Linked DNA regions of Homo sapiens: region 1 is linked to region 2. The links come from fine-mapping of genetic effects on gene expression. Tissue or cell type: pancreas. Region 2 holds a variant in brackets; the other region holds the start of a gene. All regions are shown on one strand. Distances are between the middles of the regions. Region 1 holds the start of RRP36 (ribosomal RNA processing 36). Region 2 holds the start of LOC124901318 (a long non-coding RNA gene).

Evidence for each region. PIP is the estimated chance that this variant, and not a neighbour inherited with it, causes the effect. A credible set is the group of variants that fine-mapping cannot tell apart.
Region 1: RRP36 starts here. The variant in region 2 is the best candidate, but not a certain one, in a credible set for the expression of RRP36 in pancreas (GTEx, PIP 0.65).

Annotation. Positions count from the first base shown.
Region 1 is chr6:43,019,183-43,024,548 of GRCh38, forward strand. RRP36 (ribosomal RNA processing 36) reads left to right here and starts at 2,441. Exons shown (of 7, transcript NM_033112.4): 1 at 2,441-2,602. The coding sequence starts at 2,473. KLHDC3 (kelch domain containing 3) reads left to right here. Exons shown (of 11, transcript NM_057161.4): 10 at 106-184; 11 at 1,485-2,112. The coding sequence ends at 1,551. RefSeq lists enhancers at 1,993-2,724, 2,123-2,232, 2,293-2,342, 2,725-3,456 and silencers at 2,433-2,502, 2,513-2,562, 2,573-2,642.
Region 2 is chr6:43,040,772-43,046,137 of GRCh38, forward strand. It overlaps CUL7 (cullin 7), which reads right to left. Exons shown (of 26, transcript NM_014780.5): 13 at 5,215-5,320; 14 at 4,816-4,911; 15 at 4,456-4,631; 16 at 3,981-4,114; 17 at 2,677-2,859; 18 at 2,303-2,409; 19 at 2,031-2,213; 20 at 144-304. It overlaps LOC124901318 (a long non-coding RNA gene), which reads left to right and starts at 265. Exons shown (of 2, transcript XR_007059581.1): 1 at 265-353; 2 at 2,287-4,375. RefSeq lists a silencer at 5,050-5,241. The variant C/T (reference allele first, on the strand shown) is at 3,224.

The DNA.
Region 1 (5,366 bases), 22 kb before region 2:
TGAATTGCTCCTGCCATCAAGGTCCCTGTCTTTGGGTGGTGATATCCAGGACTGGATCCTTTCCTCACCTTTGACCATCTCCTTTCCACAACTTCTCCCTTAAAGGCCCTAGTCTGAAGACTCTGTGCAAACTGGCCGTGATTCAGTATAACCTAGACCAGTCCTGTTTGCCTCATGATATCAGGTACAGCGAGTGGTTGGAAGGGAGGGATTGAGTGAGGGTGAGTGAGCAGCACAGGTGTGACCTGATTAGCTTGGTTTCAGTATGGAGGAGACAGACATTTTTGTTCTGCTGGAGATGTAGTGTACTTGTGGGAAATGAGATGGAAGGAGGTGAATTGACAGCCATCATATAAAACTGTCAGCAGAATAAATTATATGAAAAAAAAATACAGCTCGGCAGCATCACTTTCTGAGACCTAAGCTTATACAGTTATTTTTGTGACCATGCTGAGAACAACTGATTAAATCTTAGAACCTAGCTGCAAAGTAAAGACAAGTTTAGGAGCCTCTGGATCACATTGGTTCCAGAAGATCTGGCTGCTTCCCTTTGAATTTCGTTCTTAGGTTCCAATTAACCACCAGATGTTACTTTATGTATAATTTTTCAGGTTCAAATTAACCACCAGATGTTACTTTGTATATAATTTTTCCTGTCTGGGTCATTCTGAGATACTTCGTCTCTTTGTATCAGTTCAGTTTAACTCTTGCTGGCTGGGCATGGTGGCTCATACCTGTAATCCCATCACTTCGGGAGGTTGAGGTGGGCAAATCAGTTGAGGTCAGGAGTTCGAGACCATCCTGGCCACATGGTGAAGCCCTGTCTATACTAAAAATACAAAAATTAGCTGGGCATAGTGGCAGCCACCAGTAGTCCCAGCTACTTGGGAGGTTGAGGCAAGAGAATTGCTTGAACCCGGGAGGCGGGGGTTTCAGTGAGTCAAGATTGTGCCACTGCACCACTGTACTCCAGCCTAGGTGACAGAACAAGACTCAAAAAAAAAATTAATATGGTTGGGTGGGTGGGGAAGGCCTCAGGAAGGATAGGAGTGCTGAGTCAGAGCCTTAAAAGGATGGGAGTTAAGAGCAAAAATGGGTATTCCTGGTGGGGTGAGGCATTCCTGGTGAGGGTAAGGTGGAGGGGCTGCCTGGTTGGCTCTAAGCAAAGCAGGAAAGGCAGGTTGGGATGTTGACTGACATGTATACACAGATCTCAGGTGCCTGGACACTGCAATATACATACATACATAAACATAAACCGGAAATCCATATGAGCTTGGAGGTAGAGGAGTGGGTGGTGTTGGATTTGGTGGTGGGTGGGTTCTGATTGTTCAACCTAGTAGGTCTCTTAAGTAAGAGGTGGCTGTGGGTGGTTGACCTTTAGGAAGTTGGAGAGACTGGTGTGTTTTTAGCTTGGTTCAAACATCCCTTAGCTTGGGCTGAGGGCCCCCTCTTCTTTCTGTCTCTTATTGTTGGCCTTCCAGGTGGGAGCTGAATGCCATGACCACCAACAGCAATATCAGTCGCCCCATCGTCTCCTCCCATGGGTAGGAGGAAGTTTCTGCCACCTCCCCTCCTGAGCCTGCTGTCATCTTCACTGCCCCTGCCCATCTGTCACCCACCTGCTCCTTTGACCCCTGGACTTGGTATACCTCCATGTGGAGTTGTTGGGCGAGAGGTGTTCTCTGTGCTGTGAATTCAGTGGGGAGCTGTAGCGGGGTGGGGGCTAGGTTCCTCCCCCCTTGGGCCGAGGGCCCCTTCCCCTTGGTGCTCTGTCCCCATCCACCTCCTTTCAGCTGCTCCTGGGCCTCAGCTCTGCCCAGGGCCAGCCAGGTTCTGCTGGGAAGGGAAGGGAATGGGGAGAAGGGAGAAGCAAGCAGTGTCTGAGCCTCAGGAGCTTCCCCCTCCCCCTTTGCCTATCCCCTCCCCTCTGCTTGAGCCTTGAGCCTTGACTGGGAGCTGAAAGGAGTTGCAGCTGTTGGCATGAGACCTCCTTCTCCCCGTCTTGGGGAGGTGGGGACCAGCAGATAAATCCCACCCTTCCTTGAGCTGTCGCTGTACTCTGAAGTTCAGCCAGCTCAGATTTTATAAAAATTAATTAAAATCTCCAAACGTGTTGTGTGTTTTTGTGGAATATGGTGGAGAAGGCTGGAGTTTGCAGTGGGGGCAGGGTGCCGAGGACAAGCACCCTGAGGTTCTGGCTTCTCAGCCAAGGGTATTAGGAAACCAAATGCCACCAAGGCCTGGTCCAAGCTTCTCGGGCGTGGAACCCAGCACCCTGCGACTCGGGCAGAAGGTTGCGACAATGTCTCCAGAGCGGGTTATCCTTTGGGCCCGGCTCCCTGGCCCTCGACCGCGCAGTTTTCTGCCCATTCGTCACCACGTTGAGACCGGGAACGCCGGAAGAGGCGGGGCAGGGGCTGCCGTGAGCGGAAGCGGCGCCATTCGTCTTCCGAGCGCTACTGCCAGCTGATGCCGGGAGCTAACTACCGCGCCGGGGCCGGGGCCGGGGCCGGGGCCCGACGTCCCCGCGGGGCCCGGGACCGCGAGGAGGACGGCGGGGGCCTGGAGCCCGCGGCCGTGGCCCGCGACCTATTGAGGGGTGAGGGCATGGGGCAGGGCGGGCTGGGGAGGGGAAGGAGATTCCCAGGCGGGGCCCTGAGCCTGCAGAGACGGTGCCGGTAAGACTGCCAAGTTCTCTAAGAGGCAGACGCTACACTAGGGGTGCCCCCAGTGCAGTGGAAAGTGGGGGGTGAGAGTAGATGCTTCCGGGATTAGGACATCCTGAGAAGTTTCTTCACGGCAGGATGAGGGTTTTCGGCGATGGGGAACGTATGTGCAATAGCATGGAGGCAGGAAAAGGCATGCATGGCTGCTGAAGGCTTAGTAGATCAGAATTCAGCAGATTCCGTAGACTTTGTTTTTTTAATTTTTTTTTTTTGAGACGGAGTCTCTCTCTGTCGCCAAGGCTGGAGTGCAGTGGCGCGATGTCGGCAAGCTCCGCCTCCCGGGTTCACGCCATTCTGCTGCCTCAGCCTCCAGAGCAGCTGGGACTACAGGCGCCCGCCACCACGCCCGGCTAATTTTTTGTATTTTTAGTAGAGACGGGGTCTCACCTTGTTAGCCAGGATGGTCTCGATCTCCTGACCTCGTGATCCGCCCGCCTCAGCCTCCCAAAGTGCTGGGATTCCAGGCGTGAGCCACTGCGCCCAGCCTGTTTTTTAAATTTTTTATATTTTTTATTTTTTTGAGACAAAGTCTCGCCCTGTAGCCCAGGCTGGAGTGTAGTTGCACCATGACGGCTCACTGCGGCCTCGAACTCCCGGGCCCAAGAGATCCTCCTACCTCAGCCTTTCGAGTAGCTGGGACTGCAGGCGCGTCACCACGCCTGCACGGATGGGTTTGTTTATTTATTTATTTATTTATTTAATGTAGAAACAAGGTCTCACCTTTTTTTTTTTTTTTTTTTTGACGGCGTCTCGCTCTGTTGCCCATGCTGGAGTGCAGTAGCGCGATCTCAGCTCACTGCAAGCTCCGCCTCCCGTGTTTACGCCATTCTCCTGCCTCAGCCTCCCGAGTAGTGGGACTACAGGCGCCCGCCACCACGCCCGGCTAATTTTTTGTATTTTTAGTAGAGATGGGGTTTCACCGTGTTAGCCAGGATGGTCTCTATCTCCTGACCTCGTGATCCGCCCGCCTCGGCCTCCCAAAGTGCTGGGATTACAGGCGTGAGCCACCTCGCCCAGCCAGGTCTCATCATGTTACCAGGTGCCAGGGCTGGTCTCCAGTTCCTGGGCTCAAGTGATCCACCCGCCTCAGCCTCCCAAGGATTACAGGATTACTGTGCCCAGCAAATGCTGCAGGCTTTTTGTTAAGGCACAGTTCTAGCTGCTGGAGATAGTTGTGAATAAAGTAGTCAAACACTCCTATCCTGGCCGGGTGTGGTGGATCACACCTGTAATCCCAGCACCAGGGGAGACTGAAGCAGGAGGATCGCTTGAGCCCAGGAGTTCAAGACCAGCCTGGTAAACATAATGAGACCCGCTTTTCTACTAAAAATAAAAAAATTTAGCCAGGGTGGTGGCCCACGTCTGTATTCCCAGCCACTGAGGAGGCTGAGGCATGAGGATAGTTTGAGCCCAGGAGGTCGAGGCTGCAGTGAGCAGTGATTAGGCCACTGCACTCCAGCCTGGGCAACAGAGCAAGACCTTTTTTCAAAATAAATAAAATTTAAGTCCAGGTGTGGCTCATGCCTGTAATCCCAGCACTTTGGGAGGCCGAGGTGGGCGGATCACAAGGTCAGGAGATCAAGACCATCTGGGCCAACATGGTGAAACTCGTCCTTATTAAAAATACAATAATCAGCTGGACTTGGTGGTGCGTGCCTTAGTCCCAGCTACTGAGGAGGCTGAGGCAGGAGAATCGCTTGAACCTGGGAGGCGGAGGTTGCAGTGAGCCGAGATCGCGCCACTGCACTCCAGCCTCGTGACAGAGTGAGTCCAGCTCAAAATAAATAAGTAAAATTTAAGGGAGACAAGTAAATTATTACATTAAAAGGCAATAAAACACTGAATTGTAGACTAGAGAACTGGATTTTGTGGAATATGAATTATAGCTCAATTTTTTTTAAGGTGATAGAGGATATGGAGAAAAAATAAAGCTTAGGAGAGGTTGCATTTTTTTTTTTTTTCCGAGATGGAGTCTCGCTCTGTCACCCAGGCTGGAGTGCAGTGACGTGATCTCGGCTCACTGCATCCTCTGCCTCCCAGGTTCAAGCTCTTCTCCCGCCTCAGCCTCCCGAGTAGCTGGGATTACAGGCACCTGCCATCATGCCCAGCTAATTTTTGTATTTTTGTAGAGACGGTTTCACCATGTTGACCGGGCTGGTCTTAAACTCCTGACCTCAGGTGATTGATCTGCCTCAGCCTCCCAAAGTGCTGGGATTACAGGCGTGAGCCACCACACCTGGACGAGGGGTCGCAATTTTAAATAACTTAGAGAAGACCTCTTTGGGAAGGTGATTTTGAATAAAGGCTTGAAGGAACTGAGGGAGGAGCTGTACCTATGTACAGTTTCTGGGGGAAGTGTACCAAGCAGAGGCAACATGTGCAGAGGAACTGAGGTGGGAATATGCTGCTAGGAGACACATTGAGAGGAGTGAGAAGGAGATGAGTAGAGTAGAGATATGACAGGGGCCAGGTCACTTGGGGGCTTGCAGGCCATTATTAAGGTACATGGCTTTTACTGTGAGCAAGATGGAAGCCATTGGGGACTTTTGCCTGTAGGAGTAACATGATCTGAAGTTTATGTGTGGGAGTGATAAGATCTGATTTTATTTTCGATGCCTCTCTCAGGCTGAATTGAGG
Region 2 (5,366 bases):
GCCTCAGTGTGGGCACCAGTGTGGCCCAGCCTCCCACTCCAAGGCTCCAGCCTGCCTCTATCCCAGACTTCCAGGCCCATGAGCTGGCTCTGCCACCATCATCCTGCCTCCCGCCAGCTCCCGCTCCTTAGGTCCACACTCACTGGTAATAATGCTCAAAAGTGGTGGCTATCTCCAAGCCGGAGAAAATCAGGACAGCTTGCAGGCATTGCTGCAGCTGTGCCAGCCTCTCCATTTCCTGGGCTCCACCGATCCGGCTGCCCTGGATCTGCTGGTCAATGTGCCGGGCGAACTGCTCACTCACCTGAGCAATGGCAGAGCACAGGAAAGCCATGAATGAGCGAGCAGAGCAGGTGAGTGGGGAGGAGGGATGAGGGTCTGGAAAGTAGATATGAATGCTGGCAGCTTTCTAAGGTGGTTGGTGCTTTCATACAACTATTTTATAAGATCATTAACCATTGTACAAATTAGCAATATTAACAATTATGGAAAGTGTCTTTTCACATTGTGTCTAAAAAATCAAACTAATAATAATCATTCAAAATGAGAAAATAAGACCAGGCGCAGTTCACGCCTGTAATTCCAGCACTTTGGGAGGCTGAGACAGGCAGATGGCTTGAACCCAGGAGTTGGAGACCAGCCTGGGCAACATGGCAAAACCCCATCTCTACTAAAAATACGAAAAAATTAGCTGGGCATGGTGGCACACGCCTATGGTCCCAGCTACCCAGAAGGCTGAGAGGACCACCTGAGCCCAAGAGGTTGAGGCCGCAGTGAGCTGTGACTGCACCACTGCATCCCAGTGTGGGAGGGAGTAAGACCCTGTTAAGAAAGAAGTAAAGAAAGAGAAAGAAAGGGAGAGAAAGAAAAAGAAAGGAGAGGAAAAGAGGGGAGGGAAGGGAAGGGAAAGGAAGGGGAAGGGAAGGGAAGGGGAAGGGAAGGGAAAGGGAAGGGAAGGGAGAGGTGGCTCATGCCTGTAATCCCAACACTTTGGGAGGGTGAGGCGGGCGGATCACGAGGTCAGGAGTTCGAGACCAGCCTGACCAATGTGGTGAAACTCCGTCTCTACTAAAAATACAAAAATTGGCTGGGCGTGGTAGCATGCACCTGTAATCCCAGCTACTTGGGAGGTTGAGGCAGGAGAATCGCTTGAACCTGGGAGGCGGAGGTTGTGGTGAGCTGAGATCGAGCCACTGCACTCCAGCCTGGGCAACAGAGCGAGACTCCGTCTCAAAAAAAAAAAAAAAAAAAAGGAAGAAGAAAGAAAGAGAGAAGGAAAGAAAGAGAAAGAGAGAAAGAGAAGGAGGGAGGGAGGGAGAGAAGGAGGGAGGGAAGGAGGGAAGGAGGGAAGGAAGGAAGGAAGGAAGGCAGGAAGGGAGAAAGAGAGAGAGAAAGAAAGACGGACACAAGGAGGTAAGTTACATACACAAAGATGGTCCTGATGCAGTGTCACTGATAAACTAGGACTGGAGGCTACACAAGGAGCCTCATGTTCCTGCTGCTCTGTACCCTGCTTTCCAGGGTGCTTCTTGCATTTTAGCTCATCAATTGTGGGGGGTTTTTTTGTTTTTTTCTTTTTTTTGAGATGAGTCTAGCTCTGTCACGCAGGCTGGAGTGCAGTGGTGCAATCTCGGCTGACTGCAACTGCAACCTCCACTTCCTGGGTTCAAACGATTCTCCTGCCTCAGCCTCCCAAGTAGCTGGGAATACAGGCATGTGCCACCATGCCTGGCTAATTTTTGTATTTTTAGTAGAGATGGGGTTTGGCCATGTTGGCCAGGCTGGCCTCAAACTCCTGCCCTCAGATGATCTGCCTGCCTCGGCCTCCCAAAGTGCTGGGATTACAGGCATGAGCCACCACACCTGGCCACTATTTATTTTTTTCAATTTTTTAAACTTCTTATAACATGGCTATATACTAACATATGTTCATCATAGAATGGGAATGGAAGGGTGGGTCATTTGGAGGAGGTGAGGAAGGGAGAGTTTGTCGGAAGAGACCCAAGGATGAGGCAAGGGTAGAGGCTTACGTGGGCAGCTTTGAGAAAAGGGAGCTTCAGCAAGGCTCCCGCACAGCCATTTTGCAGCGCCAGCAAGAAGGCTGCCCGAGGCCCAAACAGTTCAGAGCTTGAGTTCTGCAGAATATTAAAGTGCTCACAGTAGCGTGGCACAAAGTCATCATCCCGCCAGGATGAGGTCAGAAAATTGTTCACCTGGAAGGAAGGGGCAGGAGCATGAAGACACAACCCAACATGCCACCATTATGGTGTCCCCTCTCTCCCGCAGGCCTGCTCCTGCCCACCTGCTTCTCCACCACGGCCCGCCAACAGCGCGTCAGGTTTCTCATGATGCTGCTTGGAAGGCCCCGGGTAGCCAAGGAGCTCCAGTCGTGGCTTCTGTTTCTGCCTTCTGTAGAGACCAAGAAAGTGGCAGAGGCAAGGAGGGTGCAGCCCCTCCACTCCCAAGTCCCCATCCAAGGGGGTTCCCTGAGGCCTTTCCTGACATGCTGCCACCCAAAATGATGTTCATGGATGGAGGTGACACAAACCTGGAAGATGAACAGGCTGAGCCCATAGGGAGGGGAAGGATGGGGATGGACAGAAGCCTGTGGTGTACACATGGGGCCCAGGAAAACGCTCCTGACTAGAGCTCCCCACCTGAATCTCCACTACTCACTGGGCCGAGGAGTGGCCACCACAGGAGGGGGTGCCTCACAGGGCTCGACATGCACCAGCAGGTGAGTGAGACGGCGCACCCGCGAGAAGAAAGCTGGGCCGCGGCTCTGGGGGTTGAAGACAGCTTCCTGACACTCCAGGTACTGGTCCAGCAGCCAACCCAGGGGGCTAATGCCATCCTCATCTAGAGGGTGAGATAAACAAACCAAGGCACAGCCATGTCTGCAGGGAAGTGGGAGTGGTTGGGCTGAACAGGAGTGTGGAGATAGAGCAACTGGACGGAATGATACAAGGAAGGGGGGCCAGGTAGGGTGGTTTACGCCTGTAATCCCAGCACTTTGGGAGGCTGAGATGAGAGGATCGCTTGAGGCAGGAGTTCAAGACTGGCCTGGTCAACATAGCAGGACCCCATCTTTAAAAATAAGAAATAAGCATAAAAAAATAGAAAAGGCCAGGTGCGGTGGCTCATGCCTGTAATCCCAGCACTTTGGGAGGCTGAGGTGGGTGGATCACCTGAGGTCGGGAGTTCGAGATCAGCCTGACCAACA[C/T]GGAGAAACCCCACCTCTACTAAAAATATAAAATTAGCCAGGTGTGGGTCAGGCGCGGTGGCTCATGCCTGTAATCCCAGCACTTTGGGAGACTGAGGCGGGTGGATCACCTGAGATTGGGAGTTCGAGACCAGCCTGACCAACATGGAGAAACCCCATCTCTACTAAAAATACAAAATTAGCTGGGCATGGTGGCCCATGCCTGTAATCCCAGCTATTTGGGAGGGTGAGGCAGAAGAATCACTTGAACCCTGGAGGCAGAGGTTGCAGTGAGCCGAGACTGCGCCATTGCACTCCAGTCTAGGCAACAAGAGCGAAACTCTGTCTCAAAAAAATAAAATAAAATAAAATAAAATTAGCCAGGCATGGTGGTGCATGCCTGTAATCCCAGCTACTTGGGAGGCTGAGGCAGGAGAATTGCCTGAACCTGGGAGGCAGAGGTTGCAGTGAGCCAAGATCATGCCATTGCACTCCAGCGTGGGTAACGAGCGAAAATCTGTCTCAAAAAAAAAAAAAAGAAGAATGATAAAGGGAGTGGGTAACAAGGCACCTCCAGCACTTATGGTGTCCCCTGACACTTGAGAGACATGGGAAAGGGGGCAGCCCCTGGGCTGTGAGAAGACAGCACTGGGATTACAAATGCAGGTGCCAAAAGGGCCAGGACATAATCCAGGTGGTTCTAGGGTAGAGCAAGAAGGAACTAATTAGTGGAACCAAGCCCTGAGATAGTAATGGGTCCAGATGTCAGGATGGTTACCAGGGGAGGTGATGTTCTGCACCACGGGGCTGACCAGGGCCTCCCAGCAGGTCTTGCCCAGAGCTTGGGCAGCCTCGTCATCAGGGAGGAAGCGGTCAGCAAAATTCTGCTCCTGGCGCAGAGCACCGTTGAGTCTGGGGGTGAGAATGGAGGAGGAAGGTGTCAGGGGCTTGAAGCATATGTTATCTCAGTGTCCACCCTTCCTAAGACTGCCAGCTAACCCCAGCACCCAAACCGAAGGCCCCCTGGTACTTCAGAACTGCTCTGTGCTAACTGGTATATCCCATTCCCAGCCCACTGGAGAAATCTTTTCTCTTTATCCTTTCTTCCCCTCCCACAGCTCAGAAAACTCCAGCCCCCTCCCCACGCATATTAAACCTCCATCTCACAGCTTCTATGGACCCCTGCCTGCCAGCTATTTGCAATAGCCTTACCTTTCCCACAGACACAAGCATACACGCACACTCTCACACACCTAGAACTCAGGTGCAGGAGGCTCCTGCGGTCCTCTGCCATGTCCTGGCTCCAGGCCTGTGCCCGAACCATGTAGAAGAGGCGTGTGTGACGACAGAGCTGCTCCCGGAACACTGGCCAGAACGTGGGCTTGGGGCCTAGGATCTCTAACCCCCGAATGCGCGTATCAATGCCACCCTGAAACACACACAGGACTATCTTCACTCGCTCCACACCTTGGGATGGGCTGGGGTCAGCTACGCCCTCGAACCTCACCCCTGGAGCTGCTCGAGACCCAGGCTGGTCCTCTGGCTTAAGATCTGCCTGTTTATGGGGCTCAGAGCCCCCTACCCAGGGCCACACCCCACATCCCTGGCCCCACCTGCTGGCAGCGCTTTATGCGGATCTGGATGATGGGCCAGAAGCGGGTCAGGTTCTCCAGGAGGATCACCCGGCTGGCAGAGGGCATCACATTCACCTGGCAGGGGGCAGAGAAAGCTGTCACCTCCACACATGCAGAGCCAAGTTGGCTCTAGGCTCCAGTCCCCTCACTGTTTCCCTCCCTTCCCCAGCCCTGGGATGTGTAGGGTCCTGACAAAGCTGTCCTCATGCCACCCTCATTGTTCAGGGCCTGGTGGCACAAGCACAGGGATAAAGGACACTACTTTCTGTGGGGCTCAAGACAGGTGGGAGTTAGAAAAAAGTAGGATAGGGCCAGATAGAAGCAGGAGGGCAGATCCTGTGAGGGGTGGAGTAATGGCTAATGGCCCTGGGGTCCTACCGAGTTGAGTTCCGTGTGAAGAGAGCTAGTGCTATCACCCCCGCACACCACCACTCGGGCCGGCATGTAACTCGAGTCCTCACTAGCCACAAGCAGAGTCAGTTGCCTGGGAGTGGGGAGGAAAAACCATTTGGAACTTGTAGACAGGGCCC